3 separate regions of the Homo sapiens genome follow, and regions 2 and 3 are each linked to region 1. Evidence: fine-mapped expression QTL. A gene starts in region 1. Each other region holds a variant in brackets. All regions are shown on one strand. Distances are between the middles of the regions.

Region 1 (10,692 bases):
AAATATAAAAAAAACTTTAAGCAACAAAATTTACTTGTAGTAATGAATAATGATTTAAAGAATAATTTTTTTAGTGTGACAGGTCCCATTTTTACTGCAAGCTAATTAATTATAAAGGACACTTTTTCCAAATGTAGAATACAGTTCAGACGCCATGATTTTCTATTTGGCCAGGGCTGAATTACCCAATACTTACACCAGTATGTGCCTAGGGCATTAATAAAGAAAAAGAGACACCAGAAAATTAGAATATTTGAAAAACAAATAAATATTTTTGATAGTTCAGAAAAATGTAGGAGAATTTGTTCAGAGAAAATATCAGAAAGTCGTTGAACTGATGCACACTTATTTTATGACAATATCATTTTTACTTTTAAGAATGTGTAGGTGGAGAGATAATTAGGACATATAGGTAGGAGGTGGCATAACTTTTTTCAAGATTCAGGACCTACAGGAATTTTAATCAGATCCTAAACACGGAAAAAAATGGTCACCTCCCAACCTCTATGTCATTAAAAACAAAAACAATATTTATCTATAAAATAAGTGCATATTAGCCCAACAAAGTTCTGATTTTCACCCAAACAAATGCTTCTACGTTTTTCTGATATATCAAGAAGCCTAGATTTTCTCTAAAATGCTTTTTGTGTGTGTGAGCCTTTTTTTGTTTTGTTTTGCTTTGTTTTTGTTTTTTGTTTTTTTGCCTGATACCCTAAGCACATAGTTAGTGTATTTGGCAATTAAATATGGCCAAAGAACAAATTTTGGTACCTGAAATATTCAAATAAAATGAGCCACACAACACAGATTAGTAAATTGAATTAAAATTATCTTACCAATTAAAATTCAAATTGGTAAGATAATTTGCTACCTTTCTACTGTTGTAGTTTGTGCTCATGAGACTAGGGATCCAGCCTGTTACACCACTCACCAAACACAAATTTGGACAAGTCTAACCTCCCTGAATCTGTTTCCACTTATTTTAAATAATTATTACGACACTAGCTTTGCTGATAATGATAGAATTGAAATGATAGAATATAAACTGAAATTGATAGAATATAAAATGAAAAAGAATGGAAAAATGACAGAATCATAAAAACTTGTAATAATATAAGGTGAAGTGATGGTACTAATTACAACTATATTGTTTTCAACATTAACTGTTTCATGGATGTATATCTTATATTCTCCAAGGAAATTCTTTCTTGCTAGCATACGCAAATGCTGCTAGTCATATAAAACCTCTACAAATAGTTGTTAGTCAATTTATTAATTTATCCTGCTTGAAAGCACATTTTCCCTTGATAGAATAATAGTGGAATGTGTAAACAGGGAATTGCAACACACTTCACAGAGTAACAACCAAGTATAAACCTAATTTATGTCTTTCAGTAAAAGACCATCATTGCGTTATTTATGTTAAAACTTCCACAGTAAGCTCCAACCATGAGAAACAAAGCATTGACTTTTCATGAACCAAAAAGAAATGTAGAAAACTGTTAGACTCTCCAAATATTGCCTAAGTCATCCTGAAGCGGACTTGTAGCAGGCACATAAAATCAAAATATGTTCTGATGTCACTTGAAATAAGAAACATCCTATTACAAAGTGAGAAATTAATTAGTGTGTCTTAATTAAAACAAGTTTTACTAAAGACTTACATACCAATCAAAATATTTAACTTTAATATTCTAACATGAATGACATTTTTAAGATAGCATTTGAGTGGAAGATTAGTTTGTTAAACAGCACATTTAAACATTAATTTGTATATACCTTTCATATAATTTGTTTTTTTAAAAAAAACAACTTGATGGCCCTTGAATTACTTTGTACAAAGACCCCATTAAATAACACAGTACATTTTTCAAAATTAACTATACAATATGAAATAATTTTAATATAGGTATTTGACATCATACTCCATAAAGCTGCTGAGAAAGAAGGGCTCTTATGAACAGGTAAATGTTCAGTTTCCTGAATTCTGGCAGGATTACATGTAAATTTCTCTAAGAAGATGATCAGCTGATTTCTTTACAAATACCTAGAACCTGTAATTTAGAAGTCAACTACAAAATGGAGTCTTACTGTTATAACCTAGAAGTGTCTTATCTTAAACAACTAATGTACTCTCTCAAATAAATGACTCACTCTAGAAAAAGCAAGAGAAGTTCTTGAGAAGGAAATCTAGTACATCCTAGACAAATGCATATCTAGGTCATACTTTTGGAGGTTTTGATGAGAGAAGAATTCATTGCTTTATCTGATTAGCCAGTTGACTACTCACACTTACTATGAGGAACTTCTACATTTGCATATTTCTCATCTTCATAATTCCTCATAAAGTTGAAGCCCATTGACTACATTTGAGGTTCCAAAAAATAGCAATAAGCAATGTCCTGTGCTTATGCCCCATGCTTAGCTTATCTGAAACAAACGATTGCCATATTTCATTTTTCTCTTCTCTAAATGAAATGATCCTAGCTTTTAAAAATCTTTCCTCAGAGAGTTCAACTTCTAGTGCTTGAAACACACTTCACTTTTCTATGGCCCCTTAGCAAAGGCCATATAATTGTCTTAAATAGTGGGGTCAAAAGCTAGACCTGTATTTCTATCAGGGTAATAGCTGACACATAGCTGAAACAGGCTATCTACAAGGAGTTTTAAGCACATGGCCTAAGGGATTTGCCTCTGTTCAAACTGTACCAACTTTGCCTATAAAACCACCTCCAAATGAAAACTCAAAAAAAAGAAACAAAAACAAAGCCCCAGGATATCTGCTTTCATTGCATGAAATGGGGTCAACTAGTACAAATCTTAATTTTTTAAGTGTGCTATAGGCATATCTAACATTTTAATTTTTGGAAGTCAAGTGTTATCACTAAAAGATTCAGGATGCAATGTGTTATACAATTTGTTATAACATACAAGCCCAGTACCTCTTTCCTTGCCCTACTTCATATAGTTGTTAAAATTAGGCACAAAGTAGCATGAGTTTACAAAGCTATGGATCTATAATATATAACATGCTATGAGCACATGCACAATTGAGTCACCAAGGGCCCTTCTCATGTATAAACCAAATAGAACAATTATTCTCAGCAAAATTAAACTATAAACCTGGTTCAAATACATGTGAAAATTATAAATGTGGGGGGTGTATGTAGAATCAGATGCAAGACTAAAGACCCAAACAATTGTTATTTTACATTGTAAAAAATGTCTGTACTGACAATGATATTGTTAGAGAAGAGAATAATGGATAAAACTATAATAGCCCATGTGGTAAATGTAATATTACTAATACACTTTACCTACATAATTTTTTCTGGCTTTAATTCAATGAAATCCATTATCCTGGGCGGGAATGGAACCTCCTCATCTCACGCATCTTTAGTCTCCTGAACTGCCTTAAAGCCTTGACATAATAAAAGGTCAAGCAGATCCCAGTAAGCATTTGTAAATTACAATAGACCCCCATTTCAGCTACAAGCCACACATTCTCCTGCTCGCTTTGCTCACTCTCTGGTTTCATTTCATTGTATAAGCAGACTAATTTGGAAACGGCTGGGCTAGGGTGCTTGGGAATACCTAGATTTTCAAAACAATCCTACTTTCCTACTTAATTATTTACAGAAGGAGACCCTTAATACAACATCTGAGAGAACTGTGAAATGGTTCCTGGATACTGAAGGAATGAACATCAGATAGCAGCACTATTAAATAAAATGAATACATTTCACCTTCCAGCTTAGCTGTGCTTCCTGGGACACAAGGCACAAACATGAAAAGGTTGGGGTGGCATTTCAAGAAAACTGATTTGCTTCAACATTGATTTGGTAAGATGCTAGACACAAAATAATACCACAAACCGCCTCCCATTCCCATCATTGTAAATTCAGAGTCCTCAATATCATCCCCCACAAACCCAATTAAAAATAAAGAGGCAGGCTACAAATTTGCATCTAGTTCTATGACACAGATCAAACGATAGGCATCTGTTCCAATCGGTCACAATGAAACTAAGGGACAATAACCAGAGTAAATTTCACATTAATCCAAATAAAGCCAATGAATAATAATATAAACCAGAAGCATAGTTTCAAAAACATGCAATTACTTCCAGGCATGCAAGGACATATGTAACCCATAAAAATGGTTGCAAAGCACACCCTACATATAAATATGCTTCATAAATGCAATATAAATGCTAAGTGACATGTGTATATATGATCTGTATATCCATAAGATATACATGTGTAAGTTCACAGTCAAATCTACGTATAAAATAAAACTGGGTCTTGCAAATGATTTCTCAACAAGAGTATATTAGAATATAAAATAAAATGTCAAATTCTGGGGCCACTTTTTCTAAGCAATCAATAAAATAAGCAAAACCACCTTATAATGAGTCTGGTAAGCTTATGAGACACCAAATGTATTTCTGAAGAAGGCCCAACCCTGTATGTGAGAGCTGCAAATGAAATGATTCCTTTCAATAACACCCTCTTCTTGTTGTTAGCTCTTTTTCCAACCCCTGATGCTGTTGCTAAGCTTAGGAAAAAAGGCACCAAGTGGCTCAGTCTGCATTCTGAGCCAGTTAGAGATAAAATCAGAACACCATTTTTTTTTTTTAAACACAAGAGGTTGTCTTCTCACTTCTCTCTTCCTGGCAAGCTTCCTCTCCCTCCATCCTCATCTCTGTCTCCACATCTCCCCCTTCTAGTCTGAGGCACGGGAGTCATTGTTCAAGTTCAGGCCAGAAATGTATACACAGGTCAAATAAGAACACTCTAAACCAAGAAGGGAGCCCTACTGTTTCCTACTCACCATGCTGAGACCCGGAGAAGCTGTTTAAAGGAGGGAGAGATGCAAACTGAATCCATTTTCCTTGTGACCGAGTCGGATGCAGCCTCCGAACCCAACATCAGCAGTGGCTGCCGGTTTTTTTTTTCCCTCTGTCTCTGGTTGGCGATGGTGCGAATAGGAACCACCCTTCCAGCCCCACTAGAGTATCAGCAATAGAGGCGGCGGCGGCGGCAGCAGCAGCAGCAGCAGCATCACCAGTTGGGCCTCCTCCCTCTCGGAGGATGGGGTGAGCTCGGAAGCAGCCAGGAACTTGCAGCAGACACCTCCTCTGGCTCCTCCTCTCTCTCTCCCCCTCCCCCAGTGCCCCACCCCTGCTGCGGTAGAGGCTGCTGGCCCGGCAGCTGCTGGTTGCCATGGCAATGACCAATGATAAGCGACCAAGCTCAGGGGGAGGGGAGATGGGCGAAGCAAGCTGCAGGGTCTGGAGGGGAGTGAATTTGTGCTGCTGCCCTCTAGGATGCTCTTGATGTCTCCTACCCTGAACTCCAGGTCTTTTTAAAAATGGGGCAAGGGGGGCTAGGCACGGGGAGAGAATAATTAAAATTTAATTGAAATCTAGATAGAAACATACCAACGGCTTAGCTATTTTTTGCATTTTCTGTGGTTTTCCAATAAAAAGTATGAAATTTATTATCAGAAAAATAACAACAAATGTGGAGAAAATTATGTCGCATAATAGCAGATTATTATTACTTCCAAACGTGTTCGTCCTTTATAGCATCTTTTACTCAATACCAGGCAACAAGGTTTTTAGAAAGCAAACGGAGTGGCTGGACTTTGTAATAAATTAAGAGTCTGGTTGATTCCTTTGCACTACTCCCGGCTTGTTCTCAGGTGAGTTACTTGGTTTCACTGTTTTTCCAGCTACCCTTCTGAACAGGACTTGGAGGTAATTGACACATCCCTGAGGAAAAGTAAGTTTGGATAGAGACCGAAATTCCTTTCAACAACCACTATTCTCGGTAGCACAAGTTGGTGGACAGTTCCCAATCTTTTTAGTGTCAAACTCCTGGAGCATTCAATTTCCTGCAGGCAATTCCTGTCGTTTTCATGGATGCCTTTTTGGAGTTCCGAAGTCAGTTGGCAGTCAGGGTGGTGGGCAGGAAAAGGGGGAAGTGAAATCAGCAATGTCCAGTTCTAGGCGAGTTCTGTTTCTAACTATAAATTATAGATGACACCAGTATTTATCTCGTGGAGGGGTTGTAAAGATTGAATGAGATAATGCACTAAAAGCACTTGGCATATAGTAAGTGTACAATAAATATTTACTATTAGCAGCATAGTAGTACATTGCAGCCATCTCTTAATCTAAGGGTTTAAGGGGAATAACATGGCAATTTCAGGTAGGAGAAAAAATTAAGATGAGAAAATCCAAAGTACGTAATAACCATGATGATGATGGCAAAGACAGAGAGGCCCTAAGAGATTAAGTGTTCTCTACATCTTGATATTTGAGGACATTGTAAATCTCAGAGGAGTTAGATACATTTCCCAAATTCACAACTGATAAACGACAGAACCGGAATCAAAATGGACTCTTCTAACACTTACATTTGCTCTCCTAACCACCACACTTTTCTGCCACTCCTCCATAAAATGGAAATAATCTTTGTTCTTAATCCACAGAGTTATTTACAGGTTCAAATGGGTTTAACACAAGTTCCAGAGTCAGACGATCTAGGCTCCATTCCTAGCGCCAGTATTTACTATAGGTATAATCTGGAACATATTTATTAACTTCCTCAAATCTATGTTTCTTCATCTGTAAAAAGAAATAATCACAGAACCTCATGAGTCATTACAAAAATTAAACTAGATGACGTGTGTAAAATGTACGGTCTTTAGCAGATAGGAAATGTTCAATAAATGTAGCTACAGTTACTTGTTACTCATTTGTAAGTAACTAATATTAAAACATGAGAAGACTTTTTCCTGCATGGTGTCACTCTTAATGTCAGGGGCTTCTTCTAATAAAACTGGCTTGAAGATAACTAGGTGATGAGGAAAGAGTTGCAGCAGTTCCCCAGCACGTGACACTGGCTTTCCATCCACTTGGTGGGAAAGCCTGCAACCTCCTTTGTGCAGCTAGTGTCCCCTGCCTTCTGTCAAAGTCTCAGCAGCCACACAACCTGCACACACTTCCAAGTCAGCATCACCTATGTGTAATGTGTAACATAAAGGAATGGGATGTGATCATCTCGCTTCTTTTTGTATTCCTGTATTTTATCTTCTGCTTTCTCTGCAGAGATGTTCTTGTAAGTAAGCAGACCAGGAAGCTGCAGGCTGTAGAAGTTATGACACACTAGATGACAGAACCCTCCACACTGTCCTCGGGACAGCATTTCATCCTTAGCGCTAGGAGCCAAATGTCTAGGGGTGGGTGATTCTAGTTTTTCCTCTCCTCCCATCAACATAAAACAGCTGGTCAAGAGTCAATTGGTAAGAGAAAAGTTTGGTGTTTCCTATCTGAAGAAGTATCCAGTTTAACCATTCAAATACAACTTACTCATTTGTTTTTGGTCACGTCCAGGCAGCACTGTTATCATTATTTAATAATAGTTTTCCCTTATTTGCTTTAATTATTTATGATTTACTTGATTTGCTATTTATTCATTTTTTAATGAAATGTTTCTCTGACTTCAGCAAAACATAAATGAAAATTGACATGGTAAAGATAATGGACCCATATGAAGGAAACGAAAACAAATTCTTAATTTTTTTAGTAAAACAAAGACTTCAACTTTATTTATAATAATTTTTAATTTAAAAAGAAACATTAAAACTCTCACCTCTCTATTACCATCCCCTCTCATACCATGTTCTATTTTTCTATATACTATATATAAAATTAATATGAATAATATACTATGGGATAATATAACATTGCTTAATGTGGCATGCTATACTATAATGTGTACTGTATTGTATATTAGTAATATACTGTATTATTCCCTATTAGAATGTAAACTACGAGAGGGTAGGGATTTTTATTTCTGTGTTTTTTTGTGAATGGTGTCTGGGCCATATTAGGTGCTCAATAAATATTTGTTGAAGAATAGACCAGTAAATAAATAAAAGAATAACTATCTGCATTGAATCATGGCTCTGTAATTTATATATATATAAAAAAATAAAATAATACATATAGTATCATTTGTTCAGATATATTGTTGATATTTCTCATAATTACTTAGATAATTATACTAATTACCTCATCTAGCACACATGCATATTAACGTAATGTTTATCTGACACAGATTTTAAAAATACACAGTTATGAAAGTAAACATGTTTGCTCACGTATGTTCGAAGTCATCTAACATGTCCTCAGTGGGTAGGCATGGTGTTCTTTGGGAAACCCTGATTTTCTTCTAAGAGCTTCTTGGCCAATAGTACTAATTATGACCAAACTGTCTGCCTCTCCTGGGACTTTTACAACTTTGACTTCTGAATTCTGTGGGATGTCTGAAAAAGTACAGGGTATGGGTCTTGGCTCCAAAAGTGGCATTAAAATTTCAGGAGATACCACAGCATAATGGGAGGAAGCTGCAAAGTGTGGGCTCTGGAGACAGACTACCTGGATTGGGTCCAGGCTTTACCATTTCTTTTCTGAGTGACCTTGGACAAGTTGCTTTATTCCTCTGTGGCTCAGTTTCTTTATCTGTGTGACATGATAGCAGTACCTACCCCACTGAATTATTGTTCTGAGGGATTTGTTTGCACCTTGAAACATCATTTATTATCTCATAGTGTTTGTGGGGCAGAAATCTGGGAGTGGCTTAGCTCAGAGCTTCTGGCTCAAAGCCTCTCATGAGGTTGTAGTTTAACAGTTGGCTGTGGTTGCCATCTCATATGAAGGCTTGGCTGAGTTAAGTGAGTCCAAACTCACTCCTAGGGTTGTTGGAAGTCTTTGGTCCCATTGAGTCGTTTTTGAAGTTTTTGTGTGCAAAATGTTAAGGAGTACCTGGCACGTAATAAATGACAAGTCATATCAATATGGTTATAAACACAATTTTATTAACTATGGTTATGCCTAGCACATTTTTCTGGATGTTTCCAAAGCACTCAGATCACTTGGGGTTATTCTACAAGCTTGCTGTTAATGGCTGCAGACCAGCTGTCAACAGATAATGAGGAATTCTGGAGACGCTTATGTCACACTTAGTCAAAAGCCTGATTTCCCCCAAAAAGGGGGCAAAAACAAAGGCATTCATAAGTGACTGTTGTTTATCCCCTGCCTCCTTTATAAAGGATTATTAATATAGTATACATTTATATTAATATAGTAATACATTTACAGAGAACATTAAATGTAAGCAGTAAGGGTCTTCTTGAGTTTGCTAAGAATAAAGGATCTCATTCTGACCTCACTGTATGTCCTTTATCAATAGTATCAGTAAGCAAATATATTAGAAGAACTCTGCTATGAACTCTACACTCTTATGGCCAATGATCTTACAGATGACTCCTTGCATAACAAGTAGACACTTCTGTGTTTGCTCAGTCCATTTCCTCTTGAGGTTCCTTTGTTGCCTCAATTCTTCAACCTTTAAAATGTATCCATCAACTCCTTCAGGGGATCTTCACTGATACCAGGGTTAGCATTGTACTGTGACACATCCTAACTACACTTAACACGGTGAATGGTAAATATTCTTTCCTTTGTCTTTCTTATTTTAGTGCAAGCCTTTGAGGTCAAGGTTAAAGTTCATCCATTCATTTAATGTTACTTAATCTAAGAAATGTTTATTGCTAGTTTCTATTGTGTGCTGTTACTAGGTACCAGAGATGTAGCTGTGAGTCAGGTAGCATGAGAACTCCCCTCATGGAGCTTATAGTCTAAGAGGAAAGAGAGATTACATAATTACTTAAAATAAATTATGTTGAGCACTACAATAGAGAAAATCAGGCAGCTCTGACAGCAGATAAAAGAAAAGTATAATGTAGTTTGGAATCCCAGGGAAGATATTACTGGAGAGATTGTGGGGTGAAATGGAAGCAGGTGATATGGAATACGCATGTAGGTCCTGATATATGAAAGAATATGGCATGCTGCTTAAATGTTGTTTAATCCTAATACCTAGCACAGAACATGGCACCCATTATGTGCCACCTACATGTTTGTCAAAATAATCTGGCTTCTCCATCTCCCAACACACGTAAACACAGAACTTCTTTCTTCCATTTTTCTTCTGTTAATTTACTAAGGGGATTAGGGCTTGTCAATAGCTATGGAGCTGACAAGCTGTATGAGATAAGAATGAATGAAAACAGGCTGAAGGATTAATTCTTCTAACAGTAGAAAAAGAGGTATGATGCTCACAGTAACTACTGCTGCATTACAGATTTATTAAGTAAGATTTACATGATAATACAAACTTTTGCTCTGAGGCTGAAATGAGAAGCAGTTTTTCCCTTTCAGGTCCTGGACAGTTGTATATTACCATGGGAGATAACACATGGGCTTAGGTTACAAAAAAATCAGGGACACCAAAGAAATGAGAAAACTTCTGTTTCAATGACCTTTTCCAAGATTTTACAATCAGAAATTCTACAAATAAAAGCCAGTTTAATTTCAGTGTATGTATAAGTTTTATTGTAACTTTAGTTTTTATTTTTAGTCATTTATGGGAAGCACCATAATTTTCATAATTTTTACAATGCTTAAGGACTCAAAATGTCTTATTACATCACTGGGAGTAGAGAACATGAGCCAGAGAGTACAATAAACACATCATTGCACAGAGAAAAAACAGACATAGCTTTTCCCCTGTGGAGCTCAGAGTCAAATGTGTGGGATAGCCAAAGAACAAAAATCAA
Region 2 (10,692 bases), 32 kb before region 1:
ATTATGAATACATGATACATGGCATTAACTTCAATGTTTGGACTTTAGTTAATTTATTTTTGTACTTTTACTTTGTCAGAGACTCTCTGAGTCTCAGATTCTTCATCCATAAAATTATACACAGAATTTTGGTGAAGATAAGTGTATTTATATAATGTAATAGAATAGATGTCATGGTTTAATAGGAGTACAATATTATATATAATTACACTTAACTGATATACACAAGTATTTACAATTATTATTGTTTCTGATTATTAGTGGTGTTGAAGATAGAAGTTTCCAGACAACTGAATTCTGGGAAGATGAGATCAAAGTTTGTAATTTTGAGAGAATAGGATCCAAGTTGGAAAAATCCAAAAGTAAATATGCAGTTAGAAAGAACTGGACTTTTGCATGCATCAGACTCAGCCAGAGGAAATAGGTATATTTAAGATTCTTTTGAGCATCCCTGCTATCCTGGCATAGCAGGGCTTTACCATACTTCCAGAAATGCTTAAAGGCCTTTCATTCAGACATGCCAAGTAGAGGTATTCCCTCATCAAATTCTCTCCCAGAAAAAGCTCGATGACCTGGGTTGTACTCATGGACGAAAGACGGGAATAGAGTTAACACAAAGATAGAACTTCAGAACAATTTTCTGTGGCCAATTGCCCTTCTGGGACTTTAGGTTCCCTTATGCATTATAAACTAGAGTTTATATATAAACAAATGAATATATGTAAATATAATATACAAAACATAAATAGCAAATATGTAAAATAAAATATATAATTTATAAAATTTTCTATTTATATATCATTTATCATGGAGTCTGAAACATGGAAAGTACTCCAGAAACATAGCTTGTTCCATTACTGTAGAATTAAATACTCACCAAAACATCAATCAATTATACAGCTTTGTGTTTTCCTCTATTTTTATACAGTATCCTCATTCATTCATTAGTATTAAAATATACACTTTCATTTTTCTAAAAATGGTTATTACTCAGAAATTCTCATATATGTAACATTGGAAACATTACTACTATTCACATATTTAACTTTATAATTGGTGACCTAGTAGTCCACTGGTTTCCTTTAACACAGTTTGTTTAATGATTCCTATAACTTTGAACATTGTTAAGCTATTTATTCTGCTAATTAAAAAACGAAGTCACCAAATAAGCCAGTGCCCATAAGTTAGTGCTTTAAGGCAGGAGAGTGAATTTTTCTCCTAAATTCTGGGACCAACCCTCCATGCAGAGAAAGCTGTTTGTATGTCCAATGCTTACTGATGATCAGGTAAGCTCGAATGTCTTTCACCCACTCTCCCACATACCATAGTGCTTTATTATTATTATTATTTTTAACCCAATGAGTCATGAGGAGCTTTTTTGAAAAACCAAGATTCCTTTAAACTTTGGCAGTGCCACGGTGCAACCAGAGAAGGCTGACCAGTACTAAGCCATTCCACTGAGCTTGGCCAGGCAATCAACCCACAGAAATGATCTGCTCTTCATTTCTCAGTGGGGGATAAAGGTGGAAATCATCACACATATAAACATCCCTACAAGAAAAATGCTTAAAACGTCACTTCTACCTAGCCAGCAAGAGTGTCTGTTCTGAGGGTAAATTAAACCAGTTAAAGATTAAAAATTACAACACGGGCACAGCTGGGCCTGAAAACATGAGGATTCAAGCAATAACAATTGGTAACTGTCAAAGATATAGCTAAATAGAAAGAAGCTGACTCTGATCTGATGCAGTCTCAGGGCCACTTGGTCTACCTCAGGACCCCATTATAAGTCACATAAACAAATTCCATAGCTGGCTACTAGTCTTCTCCTTCCCAGGCTCTTGTGTCCCGCAGACCATCTTCCAGGTGCCATCAAAACTACTACCTGAGAGACTGTCCACTCAGAATCAGTAAGAATGTAAGGAATCACCAGATTCCATACATTTTATTTAAACTGCCCCAGCATTTCACCTCAGCCTACCTTTTTTAGGCTTATTGTTCCAGACTACTTCCCTCATGCTATGCTCTAGCCAAATTGAACTCCCACTGTTCTCTCCTATATGCCCTGTGTTTTCCTGCCTTTGTATCTTTGCATAAGCTATCTACTTTGTCTAGAATGTGTAAACACAAAAATCCTCTCAAAACTTTGGTTGCTTAACTATTGACTTGCTGGCATATATTCTTCAAGGTGCATCTCATCTGCTGCCTGTTCTGAGGGGCCATTTTTCCATACTTTATTATTGATAACAATAATTGGGAACATTGACTGAATGACTGAATGCTGAGACTATTCCGAGCACTCTGCTAAAGGTTTCATAGACTTATCTCACAAAATGATAAAAGTATAACATAATGTTGTAGAGTACAGAATGCCAGGGTTCAAATCCTGGCTCTACTTCTTGTTGGCTGTATGAGCTTGGATGTTTATTGACATTCTGTGTCTTCACGTGTGAAATGTGGATAATGATAATACAGCTAATACCAAATAGAGTTACTATGAGGAATATGTGAAATAATATATATATATAAATCCCACAGAACAGTTTCTGGCCAATTCTAATTATAAATACCTGATGCTGTTATTATAGTACCTCACAATATGCTACAAGGTAGATGTCATCATTATTCCTGATACAGGAGGTAGAAGGAAATTATTTAGGTAGATAGCGAGGGTAAAAGAATCCTCGGCAGAATTTCCCTTTTAACAAAAAGCAGCCCCAAATCATTTCTTTTCTAACAAAGAGCAGCTTGAAAAATTGAGCTGCAGACATAGATAAGCAAGCTGGAAGTTTGCACAGATGAATACTGGCAGCTGTGCCAATAGAAAAGGGCTACCCGAGGGCCAGGTATGTTCAACATGGAGATGCTGTCTTTCCTTTTCTTTGTCACCACATGTACAATAAAGAAACAGGCAACCTGGCACTGGCCAGGTAGAGAACCCATCTGCAAAATAAAAGCTTAGGGTGGGGGTGGCCATGCAAATGGCACACCTAGCCCTAACCAGTTTTTCATACCTTATGCAAATAGCACACTTGGTCTGACCAATCTTTTGTGCCCTATCTAAATCAGACACCACCTCCCCAAGCTCATCCATAAAACCCCTTGCATTTCACTGTGAACCAGAAGACCTGCTTGGGACTCCTCTCTCTGGAAGACAGAGGTTTTCTCTTTCTTTTGCCTATTAAACCTCCACTCTTAACCTCACTCTTCGTGTGTCTGCATTGTTGGTTTCCTTGGCATGAGACAACGAACCTCGGTTATTACCTCAGATGAATGATGCCGCTTCATTCCCACTTAAGAGATGAGAAAATTGAAGCTCAAAAAGGTTGAAAACATGTCCTAAGTTACATGGCTGATAAGTGACATCTAGAACACACATATAAATTTGTCAATTTGAAGCCTCTTATTTTCTGCAATATAGACAAACTGGTTGTCTTTTTGATCTAGGAATTTTCCTTAGGGCTAAACAATAACAGCAAAAAAAAAAAATTCACTAACATTTATTGAATATTTACTATGTGCCAGGCATAGTACTCAACACTACTCATGCATTATCCTACTTGATTCTTACAGCAGAATGAGCAAAAGGAACCCTTTTTAATCCTTATTTTATAGAGGAAGAAACTTTGCTTTAGAGAAACTTGTTCAGTCACACAGCTTACATGTGACAGAGCTAGAAGTCAAACCCTGGCTCTTACCTAAAACAACATCCTGCCTAGTGGAAGCTATTCCCTTACTCTTCTTTTCTTCCAGTTCTCTTAGTGGTAGCTACTTCTGTGTCACTTGACACTCTGTGAGTTGTGCATATATCACACACTCCTGCTAACCTGCCAGTCACCTGAAGAGTAGGACCCTGCCCTATACACCATCGCCTACCTAGAAATGTCTTCCAAGTAGTGGATGCCTAATAAATGTTGGACTGAATTCAATGTCACATTGGAAGTTGGATTATAAAGAATCAAATGGTGCATAAAAATATTTTGCATATATGCTAACACTTTAAATTATAATGGCAGGAGGCTTGAGTCCAGTTCCTTTATGGATGAACAATGAATGAGAAAAAACTGTTGCAATAGTTAAGAAGCTCAGCCCTGAAATTGGATTGAGCTGATTATCTTGCCCCATACTTATAAATGTTTTTGTTTGTTGGTTTGACTTATCCATTCCAAACCAGTTTCCCCATCTATAAATAGAAGATAAGAATAATATTTCCCTTTTAGGTTTGTTGATAGGATTAAAAGAATATTCATGAAAACTACTTGGGATCATGACTCATACATGGTTAGCACTCAGCAAGTTTGCTTCATAAATAAAAACTGATTTTTAAAAAGTCAAATAATTACAGAATAGCTCCTTATCATCCCAGCAATTACACGTCTAGATCTAATATCTTCCTCAGGAAAGATCACAACCATTGCGAAATAAACTTAAGTGAAGATGAGGGAAGAGAAAATAAAACACTCACTTGGGAAAGGTGCTCTGAAAGGGCCAAGCATGTGAGAAATGGCAGGAAGGAGGCCATTTTGTGGTAAACAGCTGCGTTCTTAACCCAAGGGACACAATCCTCATATGACGCCTTTGTGTTGTTAAGATGTGTGATAAAGGCCCCATGGGGAGGGTTTTCCTTTGTTCTCCAGTCTCATGGAGAGATCACATGTTATACTCACTTATTTAGAGACTCTCATCTCTAATTTGTTAAGAGCTGCAAGATTAAGACTGATGTAAAGTCTGAAGGCCAATAAGAAAAAATGAGTAAGCACACCCATTTCCCAAGGAAGATATCACTCATGGTGCCAGAAAATACACACACACACACACACACACACACACACACAAAAGAAACCTATATTACATGAAATTGCAGCATTTGAAGGTTTCTATTATGAACTGCACTGTGTTTTCCCAAAATTTATACGTTGAAGCCTTAACCCCGATCCCAACGTGGCTGTATTTGGAGATAAGAAGGTAATGAAGGTTAAGGAAGGTCTTGAGAGTGGGATTCTAGTCTGATAATATTGGTATCCTTATCAAGAGAGGAAGAAACACCAGAGATCTCTCTCCTAGTGCACAGAGAGGAGGCCATTGGCAAGCCAGCAAGAAAGGCCTCACCAGAAACCAACCCTGTAATTACCTCGACATCGGACTTCCAATCTACAGAACTGTTGAGAAAAAAATTCTGCTATTTAAGCCACCCAGTCTGTGGTTTTCTATTGCGGCAGCCCAAGTAGAATCATCCACTAACATTTGTATTAAATTCTTTCCCATCCACCTATACAAGTGATGGTTATATTTTCCCTGTTAAAAGTCAGAATGACTTTTTTTTTTTTTTTGAGACGGAGTCTCACCCTGTCGCCCAGGCTGGAGTGCAGTGGCATGATCTCCACTCACTACAAGCTCCGCCTACCGGATTCAAGTGATTCTCCTACCTCAGCCTCCCAAGCAGCTGGGATTATAGGCTCGTGCCGCCAGGCCCGGCTAAGTTGTTTTTTTGTTGTTGTTTTTTTTTTTTTTTGTATTTTTAGTGGAGATGGGGTTTCACCATGTTAGCCAGGATGGTCTCCATCTCCTGACCTCGTGATCCGCCCTCCTCCGCCTCCCAACGTGCTGGGATTTCAGGCGTGAGCCAGCA[T/C]GCCCGACATGGATGACTTTTAAGAGAAAGGACTTTTGTATCTCTTTCAAGTCAAGTGGTGTGTTTGGGAGATGTAGTTTGGCTTTCCTACTTTAAACAAAAAGAAAAATTAATTACTCCCCCTCCCCCCACCCCCTTCACATAACCCTTGTTTTGTAAAGTGTCTTTATTAGGAGTCTCTTCCATAAGTACCTCCCTCTAGACATTAAGCAAGGGCACAGGGCCACAGGGAGACAAAGACCAGCTACACAGCCAAAAGCAGTGTGCGCTCAGCAATAACACAGGCTCTTTGTTAGAGGAATTTTACTCTTTTTCCTTCTGAAATTCTTTCTGGTCGAAAAAGTTTTTACAATTCCATCTCCTTAGGCCAGCCACACTTGGCACATTTGGGCAAGGAGGGTGGCATAAAGGTGTGGCCTGCCCTGATGGATGAGGTTCTGTAGGACTGCAGGCTTAAGTGGTGCTGTGGCTTACACTGATAGAGAGTACTCATCTGTTTATTCTCCCTTCCAAAAAGTATTTTTGAGGATCTGGGTTAGAGCAGTCAAGCAATAGCCAAAGTCTGCCGTCAGCTTATAAACTAGTATGAAAATACAGACTACCATATAAAAGCAACCAAATTAATAAATAAGAGACTTTCTGATGATGGGGAGTACTACAGAAAAGAACATAAAATAGAGGAATGGATGACTGTAAGTTGTCATTTGGAATGAGTCTGCATTGGGATCAGGAAGGCTTCTCTCAGGGATGACATCTGATACATAAGGAGGAATCAGTCATGCTGAGATGGGGAAGGCGAATTCCAGGCAATTAGTACAGAGGCCCTGTCAAGGGAATTACCTCGTTTTGTTTAAAAATCTGGATGAAGTATGGAGTGCCTGGGGCCAAAAGGGGTGCTGGATCAACTAGGCCATGCAGACCAAACTGAGTACTGTAAACTTAGTGCCTGAGAAATCATTGCAGGGGTTAGAGTTAAGTGAGTGACATGACCATATTTCATTTTAACAAGGATCACCCTGACTATAATACAATGACCCACAGGCCAAATCCAGCCTGCAGCCTACTTTTGTAAATAGTTTGACTGGGACACAGCTATGTCCAGTCATTTAAATATTGTCTATAGCTGCTTTTGTGCTACAACAGGAGAGTTAAGTGGTTGTGACAGAGACCTACCTTAAGGCCCACAAAACCTAAAATACTTGCTACTGGGCCTTTGGAGGAAAAGTTGGTTGCATGGCAGCAGGAGGCTGTGCAGTTATCCTTGGTGGAAGTGATGGTGGTGATGATGGCTTGGCCCATGGTGCGGGGTGGCACTATAGATATGGGGAGATGGAGAGATCTAGGACATGATTTGCAAGAAGAGACAACTAAATTTGCTGGTGAATTAAACATCAAGGGAGATAGAGGAGAGGATTGAGAGGACTCAAAATATTTCTAGCTTTTTGGCTAGAACAACTGAGTGGATAAGAAGGCCATCTGCTGAGATGGGGAGTTCTGGGGGAGGGGCAGCTTTGTGGGAAGAGTGAAAATGAAGGACTGCTGGAGAATGTTCAGTTTAAAATGCCTTTTTATAGGGCCTCTCTGTTGTTATTTTCTCAGTCCAGCACAAGAAATTGCAAAGCAACCCAATGACTTTTATCTCCTCCTCATTCTATAACACAAACAAAAGCCATGTGACCAATGGCATTATAGCTGGCACTTCCTTGGATGCTAAACCACAAACTCTCAAGGCAGGGACCATGCCTCTAATTGCTCAAAATTAGATTTCCGTCTCTACCCCAGCACCTGACTCATAGTAGAAGCTCAATAAATATTGGTTTTGAAGTGAAGAAATAGTAACCGGTTACTGAGAACTTACAATGGCATCAGGAACTGAGTAAGGCACTTAATACAAGTTACATTACTTAATCTTTTCAAGAGTTCCTCAAGCTAGTTGCTGCTATATTAATTCTACATACAGATTTAGAAACTGAGGCTTAGAGGAAAGGATGAAAAGCACAGATGCCTTTCCTACAGGGTTGAGTCAGGAAATATGAATGTGTGAAGGGGACCATGTACTGAATAATGGTGACTGGCAAGGCAATGACCTTCCTTAAGTGAGCAATGGCTCCTCAGCTGCCACCGAGCGTTGCTCTGTGCAAATGCAACCACACGATATGGTCAAGTCTGATTTTTCAAGAGAAATTGAAAATCCAGTTTATTTGATAAATATGAAGTTTCTCCATTAAACATAAAATAAATTCTTTAATGCCTGCTCATTGTTCTAGATCAGGCATTAAAGAATTCGGTCTTAGCAACTACCACTCACACATTCCTCAGTGTACTAACCATCTTCCTTGTGGTAGAAAAGCTAATCTACCCCTTAGTAAATATTATTGGTGAGTCTGGTGTAACACATTGTGCCTATGTGCTCAGCAGAATGTATTTTTTTTTTTTTTTTGCTAAAGATGTTTCTTATAATAGCTAAAGGTTCCACTAGGCACTTACTTTTTGGTCTGGAACACTGTAGCCATTTTCAGATGATGACCAGAGTGAAACTCCAAATCATATTGTCTGAGTGGCTAATGAATTCCTGTAGTCCTCCTAACGCAATGATGCAACTACACTGACATCACTGACATCACTGTGCCAACAAACCATGTGATTTTAGAATTAAAGATATTAAATGCTTCTCCTCCCCCTTTTTAAAGATTCAATTCTTGTTACTACCTTTGGTTTATGGTGACAGGTTACTCTACTGATGGTTCCAACTTAAATAATTTCATAAAAGGGAGATTAAAATGCTATCGTTGGCTTATCTTTTCAATTTTCAGCACAACAACCTCTAATTTGTAACAAGGAGAAACATTTAAAGCAAGAGGATGTTTGAAGTGTCCAACAAATTCAATCTGGTGAACAATTAATGAATGACTATTATATGCCAGGATGTGTCCTGGGCCCCAGGATACAAAACAAATAAGCCATTGCCTCTGCCCAGGAGCACTATCTTTCCAGTGGAGGAGGAAGACCCATAAAAATAATATATCGAGACACATGCTATAATAGAAGGATTACAAAATACCCTGGGAACTAAGATAAAAGGATGATTAACAATGAGGACATGGTGGCAGAGCTGAGAGAAGTCTAGCTTAAGGAAAGCTACAGAGGAAAGGTTACAACTCAGCTCTCACTTTAAGGATGACTAGAGTTTCAGAATTCAAGTCATAAGAGTTGCATTTTGGGTGATACAAGCAAACAGCTACTAAAAGTTTACCGTGAGTGAGGTATTATTGCACTCATAACTCATTCCTCACAACCCAATTAAGATTGGGTTTTCAGTCTCCACTTTTCATATTAAGAAAGTGAGGCCCAGAAAGGTGAAGTAATTTATCCAGGGCCTCATAGCTAATTATTGTGAAAACTTATATTCTATTCCAAGTCTATATAACTTGAAAGCCTGGGCTTTTAAACAGTAAATGCTATCACAAGGTAGGGTGAGCAACATGTGGACATAAAATATTGTGGTTTGAGGACTACAGATTAGGCCACTATGAGTGGAAGAGAGCTTGCATCAAGGAGCTTTGGGGGTAGGTGTGCACATGAAGAGCAGCTGTGAATATTTCAGTGTAAGGCTTGCAAAGTAAACTGGGTACAGATTTTATGACTATAGAGTTGGAGCGTTATTCCATAGGTATCAAGGACTTTTGGGATGCTTGTAAGAATCAGAATAACAAGATCAAGAATGAACTCATTAGACAAATCCAAGAGTTTTGAACAAAGCTTTGGAGAAATTAAATGCTGGCAAATCTACTAGGAGGTTATTGAAACAATCCAGACAAAAGACAACAGTCTTAAATAAGGATACTGGCAGTGAGGACAAAGAAGATTAGGATGTCCCCCCTTTTGGGACTGAACCAATGTATATCTTATACATATTGATTGATGTCTCATGTCTCCCTAAAATGTATAAAATGATGTCTCCTGTCTCCCTAAAATGAATAAAACCAAGCCGTACCCCAACTACTTTGGGCGCACTTCATCAGGACCTCCTGAGGCTGTGTCACGGGCTCATCCTTAATCTCAGCAAAATAAACTTTCTAAATTGATTGATGCCTGTCTCAGATACTTTTGCGTTCAGACATAATAGCAACACCCACAATAGTGATACACGGATGTTAAAAATAACGTTTAATTTGATGTTAGGCACCATTCTTCCAAGTACCTCTGTAATTTGTATTTGTTAATTGGTGAAAACTAACCAAGGCAGATTAACTTTTATTTTTAATTTTTTTTAGAGATAGGATCTCGTTATGTTGCCTAGGCTGGAGTGCAGTTGCTACTCACAGGAGCAATCATAGTGCATTTCATAGTGAACTCCTGACCTCAAGCAATCCTCCCACCTCAGCCACCGGCATAGTTGGGACTATTGGTCCATGCCAATGACCCAAGCTCTTTTTTGAAAGTAACTAGTCCATACACAAATAATGAATGACTAGGGGTTTCTGAGCATTCCATGATACTAGGATATAAGTCAATTAAACACACACCCTTTGAAGAGCCACAATGAAAATTGAAATCATTTAATTTATTCTGCATATATATGTATATCCTGTATTGCTCTAACAAAAAGAAACACAGGTTATTTGCAAATATCCATGTGAAAGCATGAGAAATAAATGAGCATATCAGTGCAAAGGGAAGGGACCAATAGGAATATTTACATTCTTTTCAAAAAGGAATATTCTCTTTGATTACTAATAGTTTGACTATAATGAATTAAATGGAAGTACAATTATTTGAAAGAATTATTATTCCTTTCAAAGCACCTTATAGATTCATGTCGTGACTGAAGCATCAGAGAGAAGAATTCTATCAAAGACAACTTGTATTTGTGTTGTCTTTACAGGAGAAATCATTTAAGTCAGTAAAGGTCAGTTTTAAAAAAATGATAGGGAGGCACCTGCCCTCACTCCTTACTCTGGTACACACACAAATTAGAGCATTCTAACCACCCAGCCTTAGAATTATTGCAGACGTTACCTTCTGAGCTATTCAAAAAGCCTTTGTTCATGAAAAGTTCTCAT
Region 3 (10,692 bases), 23 kb after region 1:
GTAGGGGCAGATTGCAGGATCCAGGTTCTGCAATACCATCCAGACAACATTATGCAAATCTTTAAAAAGAAGCCTTTTAGTCAAAGTCTCCCATTGATATTTAAAGTAATCTCAAAGGCCTGAGAACCAGTATTTTTGACAAAAAGAAAATTCTCATATGCTTTAGTATAGATGCATCATCCCTGGTTTAAGCACTGAAAATTGGTAATTTTGTATTTACGTAATGGCTTTAGAAATACTAGATTTTATATCAAAGACTAGATTGATTTATGATCTAACATAAATAGTAACATAAAAGAGGTAACTTAAATAGCTCCCTCTTGTTCTAATGAAATATATTTTCCGTTGACTACAGACTGAGAGACATAGCAACAAGGAATGCAAACTCCTTTGATTCCATATGGTGAAATGAAAACCTTGGCTCATCCATCATTCTTTACCAGTTGCTTTGAGCAAATAAATGCAGAGTTCTATCCTAGGAGAAGTGACTCCAGTTTTCCTCGATTATCAATTCAAAATCCTCTTGTGTGTAGCAAGGAGGACATACCCATTTAAATTAAGTTGATCTGGGAGACCAATGTACATGTCTTAAACTTGGTCTGCCTGGGACAGCAGATACATCCAGCCACAACTACTGAGAAAACAGCAAGATAAACAGGTAAAGATAAGGATTTAGAAGCGGCATCAAGTGCATGCCTAAATGAACCTGGGACTTGGCAGTGAGAATTACAGACCTTAGCTGAGATGAAGGGAAGGGAACACTAAAAATAGCCTTGACCTTGATGTGAGTATGATGTGAGCCCGGGAAATCCTACCTGAATGCGTCTTTGTTTTACTGTGGCCCTTACCTTACATTTTCTGGCCAATGTTGTCCTTGATGGCCCTATATATGTGCTTTTCATTCTCTTACACATAAATTGATCTCTTCAAGTTCAGGGGGAGCAACTGATCCTAGGAATCCTTACGTATCCAAAGGCAATTGCTGATGATTGTCCTGGGGATGTTTAACCGGTTCCTATAAGGTGGAGGCATCATGCCGAAGAAACTTAAGTGTATACCCCTCTCTACTTTTTCATTTCCAAGGGGAATTAGACAGCTTGGGATTTCATGGATGTCCAAGGGTAGACATCAGAAGTCAGGAAGGACAGAGGCTGATGTTTCTATTGATGCTCAATTTTCTGTTTTCCTTTTCAAAGAAAGAAAAAGGAGTGGTCCCTAAAATTCTCTTATTCTGGTTAGCTGGTGTCAAGGCCACAGTGGGCATCATAAACACCACCAGGTCTTCCTGCCTAGGTCTTCTATGTTCTAAGAGTAACTTTGTGTTGGGCAATACAGGGCTGTCCAGGTTACATGGGTCATAGTGGAAAGGGCAGTGTTATCTGCTGGGTAAACTTCACCCCATCTAGGTAAATTTACAGGAAAGGGCAGAGTTATCTGCTGGGTAAAACTTCACCCTTTCTAGGTAAATTCACAATTTCCTCTCTTGAGACCAAAACGTAGACCTTCCCACTGCTAAACTAATTCTGCCATAGTGGCAAACTCTTCCTTAACTTTTTGCCTCCCACCTGAAACTGATCCCCAGATAATGCTATCTCAAGAAAGCAAGTGCTGCTCAGGGGTTTGGAGGCCTAACTCTCTGTCCTAGCCTGGCTTGGTGACACTCCAAGGGAGTATTTCACACATGTTCCTTAGAAGATGTTGAATTATTTCTCTTTTATCATTCATAACTTAATGTCATTGATACAAGTCTGTCTCCAGTATGTTTAATTGAAAGTACTTTACATCAGGTAAGTAACTTCTGGCCTTTGACTCTGAATGTTTGAGAGAAAAATTCTATCTAGATTTATAAAACTATCACTTGATAAGCCTCCTCCTTCCTAGTCAGATGGGTGAAATACTTATGTTAGTTCTTAAAGACACAATCTGTAGAGATGTGCTTCCCTCTCTTGCAATAGAACTGTAGCTTTACGTGGTAAGACTCGATAGGGAAAAGCAGGACTTACGCAGAGAAGTAACTGCATATGTTACACTGGGGCAGTCTTTGGAAGTGTGTTGGGAATAGAGATGTGAAATGAATGAGAACTGTACCACAGGAATGATATCTTTGAGAACAATATCTTCCTTGAAGATGACTTGCCCCAGTGCTTAAGCTTGCTTCCCCATGCCTTACGTGTTCCTCTGTTCCGGCCCTTGAGAAGCTCTGTTATATCACCATTCTATGGTATAAGCAGGAGATGCCAATAGACATCAGTTCCCAGTACCACATCCTTGCCTCTGTTGATGGCTGTGCTTTCTTTTTTAATGGGCAGTGGCCCTTTCTCCCATTCCACTGTATGTAGAATTTTATCTGTTGAACATAAGGAGCAGTTCATCCAGGGATCCCCTATGATTGGGACATTTTGCTGAGTTATGCTTATGATCAGCAGTAGTCCCATAGAGGAGGCTGCTGCAGGGTTGAATATCTTGGCACTCTATGCCTTTGGAGTCACAAAGGACAACCCATTAGCAGTAACAGCCAGGGTTAGGGAGTCTCTGGATGAGGAGAAGGCATCATTGGCATTCTTCTTCCTTCTCCAGACTTAGCATCCCCTCTTTGTACTATCTCACAGTTCCACCACATTCTTTAATTTTTCAACCTTTTTTTTCTTTCCTTAAGAGGATTCTGATTCAGCAGAGCAAAGAAGGGGAGTGGTGCTCCTTTTCTAGGATCCGTCAACACAGTAGCTTCATCTTCAGATAGGATTCTGACCCCTCACCCTCAGCTTGGACCAATAACTTGCCTAACCATCCCCTTCAGAGCTTCCCAGATTTGTATTTAAGTACCTATCCCTGGTACTTAAATTCCCAGATAACTAAATGATATGTGATAATTCCAAGTTAATTGAATTACATTTGAATTGCAGTTCTATAGACTTTGGAACTTCTATTCTTTCCATGGCAGGGGAATGTGCACAGATAATGATATGGTTTGGCTGTGTCCTCACCGAAACCAAATTGAATTGTATCTCACAGAATTCCCACGTGTTGTGGGAGGGACTCAGGGGAAGGTAATTGAATCACGGGGGCCAGTATTTCCTGTGCTATTCTCATGATAGTGAATAAGTCTCACAAGATCTGATGGGTTTACCAGAGGTTTCCACTTTTCTTCTTCCTCATTTTTCTCTTGCCACTGGCATGTAAGAAGGGCCTTTCACCTCCTGCCATGATTCTGAGGCCTCCCTAGCCATGTGGAACTGTAAATCCAATTAAACCTCTTTTTCTTCCCAGTCTTCTGTATGTTTTTGTCAGCAGTCTGAAAACAGACTAATACAGATCATGCTTATAATGTCTGGTAAACTAAGTTTTAGTTGTAGATTCAGATGTTGGGATAATGGGACTACATTGTCAGTGACCTTGACCATGGGAGGGAGATACTGAACTATGTCTCTCTGGGAATGGAGCCATAATACAGGGAGGGAGAATGAGTAGAAAAAAAGGTGCAAAATACTCTAGAATAATAGAGGTCTCATTAGAGAGTAGGGGAGGGAGAATGAGAAAGTGAATGAGAGAGAGAGAAAGAGAGATGTTAGAGAAGAGGGACAAAAGAAGAGAATAGATAGAAACATCCAATCCCTTATAGCAGTCAGACAGCCTCACTTCTATTGATTCTTTTTTTCTTAAACCATTTAATTTCATAAGCAAATAATTTGCATACTTCAGTTTACATAATTATTTTAATTCTTTGGACAAGCTTATATTCATTATTTCACTTTTAAGGACACTTACCCTGAAGGGTAATTTTAACTTGCCTAAGATCACATGACTGCTTTTTCATTGTGAATCACTGTTTCTCTGGGTGAGATGGTCAGC[C/T]CAATTTCCCAAACAATATTCCAGTCTAGCGTGGAAAATTGTGACTAGAAAGAGCAAACAACCTTGGAAAATAGTTTTATTACACATTATATAAATGAGAGATTCATATCTATGTCAGTTAGTGCCAAGCCCAGAAATCAGAGGTCATTCTAAATATTTCAAGCAAAGAGGGATTTAATGCAGACAATTGGTTACAGTGCTCTTAGAAACACAGAAAGAACACAAAAAAGAAGAGTGTTATAAAGACACTGGAAGCTGCGATTGAACCTGGACTGAAGCCTAGCTGCCCTTGCCCTCTGTCTGCTGGAGGTGCTGCCATTGATGCTGAAACTGCATCCGGGCAACTGAGCAGGAAAGTTAGGAGTTTATCTTCCTGCTGCTGCGGCTGAATGCATGACTGCTGCTTTTACAGCTGGATCCACACCACTGCAGCTGAGCAGGAAATGCAGGAGTTTATGATCCTGCTGTTGCTGCTGAATGCATTGCTGCTACTTCTTCAGTTGGATTCATACCATTGCAGCTGAGCAGAAAGTCAGGAGATTACACTTCTACTGATGTTGCTGCCACATCTTGATGTACCATTAATAATAGAAAATAAAATGGTTTCCCTCTTCTTTTATACTATATTCTCTCAGACTCCACTGTCAATGAAACCTGGAAAAAATGGTTTTCAGGCTCCCATTTCTGCCAGTTATTCAGAAAAGAGCATTACAGAGTAGGGGTAGAGCTGGCAATTAATAGACATAGAGTCAACATAGTTCACCTGCTGCTTATACAGTGTCCATTTGCCTCCCTTGTACCCTTATTTAAATTTCATTCAACAACAATCACAACAATATGGTGCTTTTACCTAACATAATTAACAATTTTGCATACAAACAGAAAAGCTGTCACTCTGGATATTCTGTAATTTAAACACTAAATTGCACAATAGCCATCATCCCACTTTATATGTAAAATAGGATAAGAAAGGGAAAGACGAAAAAGGAAACAGCTGATTAACATACACAAATATTGCATAACAGACGAGGAATAAATCATGTGTAACTGCAGTCATCATTTCTATGACTGGTTGTTAACAGATCATCAGCTTCTGGTGATAGTTGCAATTTCCTCTTCTGCTTTTCTATGCTTCCTTTTTTTTTTTTTTTTAACGATAGAGTCTCACTCTGTGGCCCAGGCTAGAGTGCAGTGGTGTGAACAACACAGCTCACTGTAACCGCAACCTGCTGGTTTCAAGCGATCCTCCCCCCCAGTCCCTCGAGTTGCTGACACCACAAGCATGCACCACCATGCCTGGCTATATTTTTAAATTTCTGTAGAGACAGGGGTCTTGCCATGTTGCCCAGGCTTGTCTTGAACTCATGTGTTCAAGCCATCTTCCTGCCTTGGCCTCCCAATGTCTGGGATTACAGGCATGAGTCAATGCACCCAGCCTCATGTTTCCTTTAATCTCAAGCAGGTCCTCCTCAGGTTGATATTATTTACTTAGTGGTGTAATTCAAACTTTAGTTCTTGAAGAGTCTGAGCCCCTAGTAGTCCTTTTGGTTGAGTTGCTATAGTTTTACATTAACTTTTATTACTGGAAGCACTTCAGAGAATCTCTTGGGTTCTATATGTTGTCAACATGTCCCATTGTGGAGAACATTGTATTTTCCCTTAATAGAGATCAGTTACCTCACCTTGGCTGTTGCTTCAGTGACATGAGGATTCCTCAAAAGGCCAGGTGATGGTCTTATCTTTTAGATCGATGAAACCATCATGTCATGTGGTAGAAGTGCTCTCCTTTCAGAATTAAGACCTTAAAAGAAGCAGAGTTTAAATTTATAGGGCCAGGAAATTGAAATTTTTCAAGCTGGTCATTGAGTATACTTCTAACCCCTGATTCCTGTAACTGTGAAATCTGGCAATTATTAAAAAAAATAGCATCATATTTTGACTGGTGGTTCAAAGAATATACCACATTCTTTGGGACAGCATCACATCTTTGAAGGATGTCTTTGTTTGTTTATTTGTTTGTTTGTTTTGAGATAGGGTCTTGCCCTGTCACCCAGGCTGGAGTGCAGTGGAACACACATGGCTCACTGTAGCCTCAACCTCCTGGGTTAAAGTGATCCTCTCGCCCAGCCTCCCAAGTAGTTGGGGCTACAGGCATGCACCACCATGCCCGACTATGTTTTTTCATTTTTGTAGAGACAGGGGCCCCACTATGTTTTCCAGGCTGGTTGGGGGATGTTTTCGGTCAGAAAGTAGTATGACTACATCTTCAGTAGGCCATTCTAATGCTCCGCAGAGCTGAGTGTTTCTGGATAATGGAGCACATGGCAAGATCAGTAAATTTAATGAGTGTCAGCCCATTGACCCACTTTATTTTCTATGGAATACATTCATTGGTCACTAGCTGTGGTAGGCTGAACAATGATGCCCCAATATGTCTACCTAGTAATCCCTGAAACCTGTAAATGTACTATATTATATAGCAAAAGGGATTTTGCATATGCAGTTAAGAATCTTGAGATGAGGAGAATATACTGGATTGTCTGTGTGGTCCCAATGATACAAGTGTTCTTATTTTTTTTATTTTTATTTTTTTGAGACAGGGTCTTGCTCTGTCACCCAGGCTGGAGTGCAGTGGCACTATCTCGGCTCACTGCAGCCTCCACCTTCTGGCCTCCAGCGATCCTCCGATCTTAGTTTCCTGAGTAGCCGAGACTACAGGCACACGCTGCCACGCCCGGCTAATTTTCATATTTTTCATAGAGATAGGGTTTCACCATGTTGCCCAGGCTGGTCTTGAACTCCTGGGCTCACACAATCTGCCTGCTTTAGCCTCCCAAAGTGCTGGGATTACAGGCGTGAGCCACTGCGCCTGGTCACAAGTGTTCTTATAAGAGGGGGTCAGAGGGAGGTACCACTACGGGAGAGGAGAAGGTGACATGATGACAGAAGTAGAGGCTGGAATGATGAACTTGAAGATGGAAACAGGGGTAGCAAGCCAAAGAACATTGATGGGCCACTAGAAACTGAAACAGGCAAGGTGACAGATTCTCCCCTCAGCTCCAGTAGAAACTAGAAACCAGTACTGCTGACATTGACTTTAGTTCAATGAAATAATTTTAGACTTCTGACCTCCAGAACTGTAACTGAATAAAATAGTATTGTTTAATGCCCTTAAGTGTGTGGTAATTTTTTACAGCAACAATAAGAAACTAATAAAGCATCAATGTTCTGTGGAATATGAAGATTCCAAATAAGTCCTTTGCAAGAGTATCTGTGAAGGCACTGTGTGCAGGAAAGGGGAAATCCATTTTCAAAATAACTATGTTTTTTAGTGATGATAAGTTACTTATCCTACCATTAGGAAAGGGGTCTAGTAAAATCAACCTAACACCAAGTAGCTGCCTAGTCCCCTGAGGAATGATGCTACTATTAGTAGAAGGACTCAGCATCAGCTATGGTCAGGTGGATATTCAGCAGTGGTGGTAGCCAGGTCAGCCCTGGTGAAATCCATGTTGTTGAGCCAATGCATAGCTTTCATCCCTACTGCCATGAACATTTTTAACCTCATCAGATTGAGTGACTGCTAGAGTGCTTGGGGAAAGAGACTGGCTGACATCTGCAGAGCATAGCATTTTCCATGTGATTACTGAGAACATCCTCTTCAGTGGGTACTCTTGAGTGAGTATTCACATGGAACACAAATATCCTTATATCCTATACTCATTCTGAGAAAGTTGATATACTTTCTCCCCAGATCTCCTTGTTACTAAATCTTCAGTTGTGTTCTTTCCAAGTGTCTGATGATCTGGCTAGCCCATGAAGTAGTATATATTAGTAACTTGAGCCAACTCTATCCAGAAAAAATTACAAAAAACAATCAAACTTCTAGAAGATATTCTAAAGGGGAGGCTCTCTTTTCTTCATTTTATAACACAAAAGCTTTTAATAGGGCTGTAATTCTGCATCATGCATTTCTAGCCTTACACCAGCACAATATGCAAAGCCATTTGTAATCACAACCCATTTATTTTTTTCTCTGTCAACTGAAATTAAAGAATTTCAGGTGAGGCCACAGGTGTATGCTTGAGGGAGGAGCATCAGAGCAAGAGGAGTAGGTGCTGTTGGAGTCCCAGCCATCTGCTCAGGTAGCATCCACTGCTTCAGCGCATGCTCACAGTGTCACTTCCAAAAGCTTTTTTATAAAAAAAAAAAAAAAAAATAACATGAGGCTGGGCATGGTGGCTCATGCCTATAATCTCAGCACTTTGGGAGGCCAAGGCGGGTGGATCACCTGAGGTTAGGAGTTTGAGACCAGCCTGGCCAACATGGTGAAACCCTGTCTCTACTAAAAAACAAAAATTGGCTGGGTGTGGTGGATGGGGGCCTGTAATCTCAGCTACTCAGGAGGCTGAGGCAGCAGAATCTCTTGAACCTGGGAGGTGGAGGTTACACTGAGCCATGATTGCACCATTGCACTCCAGTCTGGGCAACAGATTGAGACTGTCTAAAAAAAACAAAAACAAAAACAAAAACAAAAAACTAAAAACAAAAAACAAAAAACGAACAACAACAAAAAGTAATGTGAAACCTTTTCTAGGGAGATTAAACTTTCCAGTCATCAAACCTGGTCATATTACATCTACAATTATCCCCTACCTTCTTGCATCATCAATTTCTCCATCTTTGCCCAATATGAGTTCAAAAACATGCTTTGGAAAGTTCCAAAGTCCTCCATTGACTCCACATTTCCCTGGAGATGCAGATCCATTTCTCCACTCCCTGTCACAGTAGATTTCTTGAAATAGTTATCTTTACTCACTGTCTCTACCCCTTCACCTTCCATTCACTCTTCAGCTCATGCCATTCTAGCTTTTTGGTTTGATTTCTCCAAAATTGCTCTTGTCTCTGTCATTAATACTTTACTTGCTGAAACATCCCTCAGGTCTATATATATATACTATATATATATATAGTATTTCACAACTTCATATTCTCTTTATTTTCCTCACATTAAACTGGTGACTCTTTTTACATCAGTACAATGTATTTTCCTTGTCTATAGGACCGAGGCTCTCATCTTTACCTAAACTCGCTGCAGAGATCATGTTCTTCCATGGCTTTCAATACCATCTATATGCTAAAGATTCCTAAATGTATATCTCTAGTTGTGTTCTCTCCCCTGAGTCTCAAGCAAAAAGCCGATTAACTACTATTAACTGCTATGCATCACCACTCAAAATAACACACTTTAATAAAAATTAAATATTCATTGCCTCTCTTGTACCCTCAATTTATTCCTTAATTGATATGATCTAGCCAAAAACCTAGCAATAATTCTCCATTCTTGTCTTCCTCTTAGCTACCCACTACATCCAAATCAACAGTCCTACCATTTTTATGTTCAACACACATTTTTAACCTATTTTCTCCCCTCTATCTTCACAATCATTATCCTAGTCAAAGCCATGATCTATCAGTTAAACTAACTCAACAGCCTTTCAGTTGGTCTTCCTGTTCCACCATTCTATTATCCATTCTTCACAAAGTATCCAGGATAATATGTAAACATGTAGAAAGATCATATCAGTTTTCTTTTGAAAACCTGCTATAACTTCTCATTTTGTCTAGAATAAAATCAAAACCTGGTTCCACAATCTACAAGGCTCTACCTGATAAGGCCTCCCTTACCTCTGTTCCTTCATCTCCTATTACAGTGCTACTTTTCCCATTGTTTATCACACTCCAGCCACATGTTCTTCTTTCGGTTTCTCTTGCACATCTTCCTGCCTTAGGTCCCTTGCACTTGCATTTGCCTCTACCTGGAATCATGTCTCACGAACCTCTGCAGGGCTGGCTTCTTCCTGTTTAAACTTCTGCTCAAATGCTACCCACTCATGCATGTTCTCCTTCACCATCTCATCTAAAGTAGCTTTACCACCTCGGTCTCAGCTTCAGTTATCTATTGCCATGTAACAATTCACCAAAAGCATTGTGATTTAAAACAACTATTTATTTAGTCATGACTCAAGGGCCAGCTATTTGGTCAGGGTTTTGCTGGGATAGTTTGTCTTTGCTTCACATTTTGTTATCTGAGATCACCCATGCATTTGTGGTCAGTTGGAAGGAGCCCTGGAGCTGGCTCTCAAACGCCCTCATTCACCTGCCTGGAAGTTGATGGAATCTATCAGCTGGAGGGCCTTGATTTTTCTCCACATGGCCTCTCTAGCAGGCTAGTTTGGCCTTTCTTACAAAACACCTGGGCTTCCAGAGAATGAGAGCATAAACTAAAAGGCCTCTCGAGGTATTGCTTGAAAGTTGCACCATATCACCTTGGCCACAGTGTATTGGCCAAAGTATATCATGAGGTTAGCCAAGATTAATGGGTGAGAAATAGACTCTACATCCTGATAAGCACTGCTGCATATAATTTTTGGTGATTTCAAATCTAACCTGCCTCCTTTCCTGTGTCCTCCCATCAGTCTTTATCATATCTTCTTATTTATTTATTTCAGAGTTCTTAACATTATCTAAAGTTATCTTGTTTATGTATTTGTTTTCTTTTGATAATGAGTCCTGCTCCTTCCATTTCATATTTCTTTATTTTATAGTTCTTAACATTATCTAAAGTTATCTTGTTTGTGTATTTGTTTTCTTTTGGTAATGAGTCCTACTCCTTCCATTTCAGTGTGAGCTCTATGACAAGAGGCATCTTTTCTGACTTGGATATTATTGAAGCTCCAGGGATTAGAACAGCAAACAGTCCTTATTTAGCATATGAAAAATGGTCAAGGTTTGATGGTCAAGTGAATTAATGTATGAATGAATTCATGAATTCAGAATACC

The links. PIP is the estimated chance that this variant, and not a neighbour inherited with it, causes the effect. A credible set is the group of variants that fine-mapping cannot tell apart.
Region 2: its variant is the best candidate, but not a certain one, in a credible set for the expression of JAKMIP2 in aorta (GTEx, PIP 0.74).
Region 3: its variant is the best candidate, but not a certain one, in a credible set for the expression of JAKMIP2 in monocytes after LPS (Fairfax 2014, PIP 0.74).

The regions. Positions count from the first base shown.
Region 1 is chr5:147,777,623-147,788,314 of GRCh38, forward strand. It overlaps JAKMIP2 (janus kinase and microtubule interacting protein 2), which reads right to left and starts at 5,106. Exons shown (of 22, transcript NM_001270941.2): 1 at 4,834-5,106.
Region 2 is chr5:147,745,760-147,756,451 of GRCh38, forward strand. The region is part of intron 1 of JAKMIP2 (janus kinase and microtubule interacting protein 2); the gene reads right to left. Among named protein-coding and RNA genes, the nearest start is that of JAKMIP2, 32 kb to the right of the region's middle. The variant T/C (reference allele first, on the strand shown) is at 5,630.
Region 3 is chr5:147,800,282-147,810,973 of GRCh38, forward strand. No RefSeq gene overlaps it. Among named protein-coding and RNA genes, the nearest start is that of JAKMIP2, 23 kb to the left of the region's middle. The variant C/T (reference allele first, on the strand shown) is at 3,850.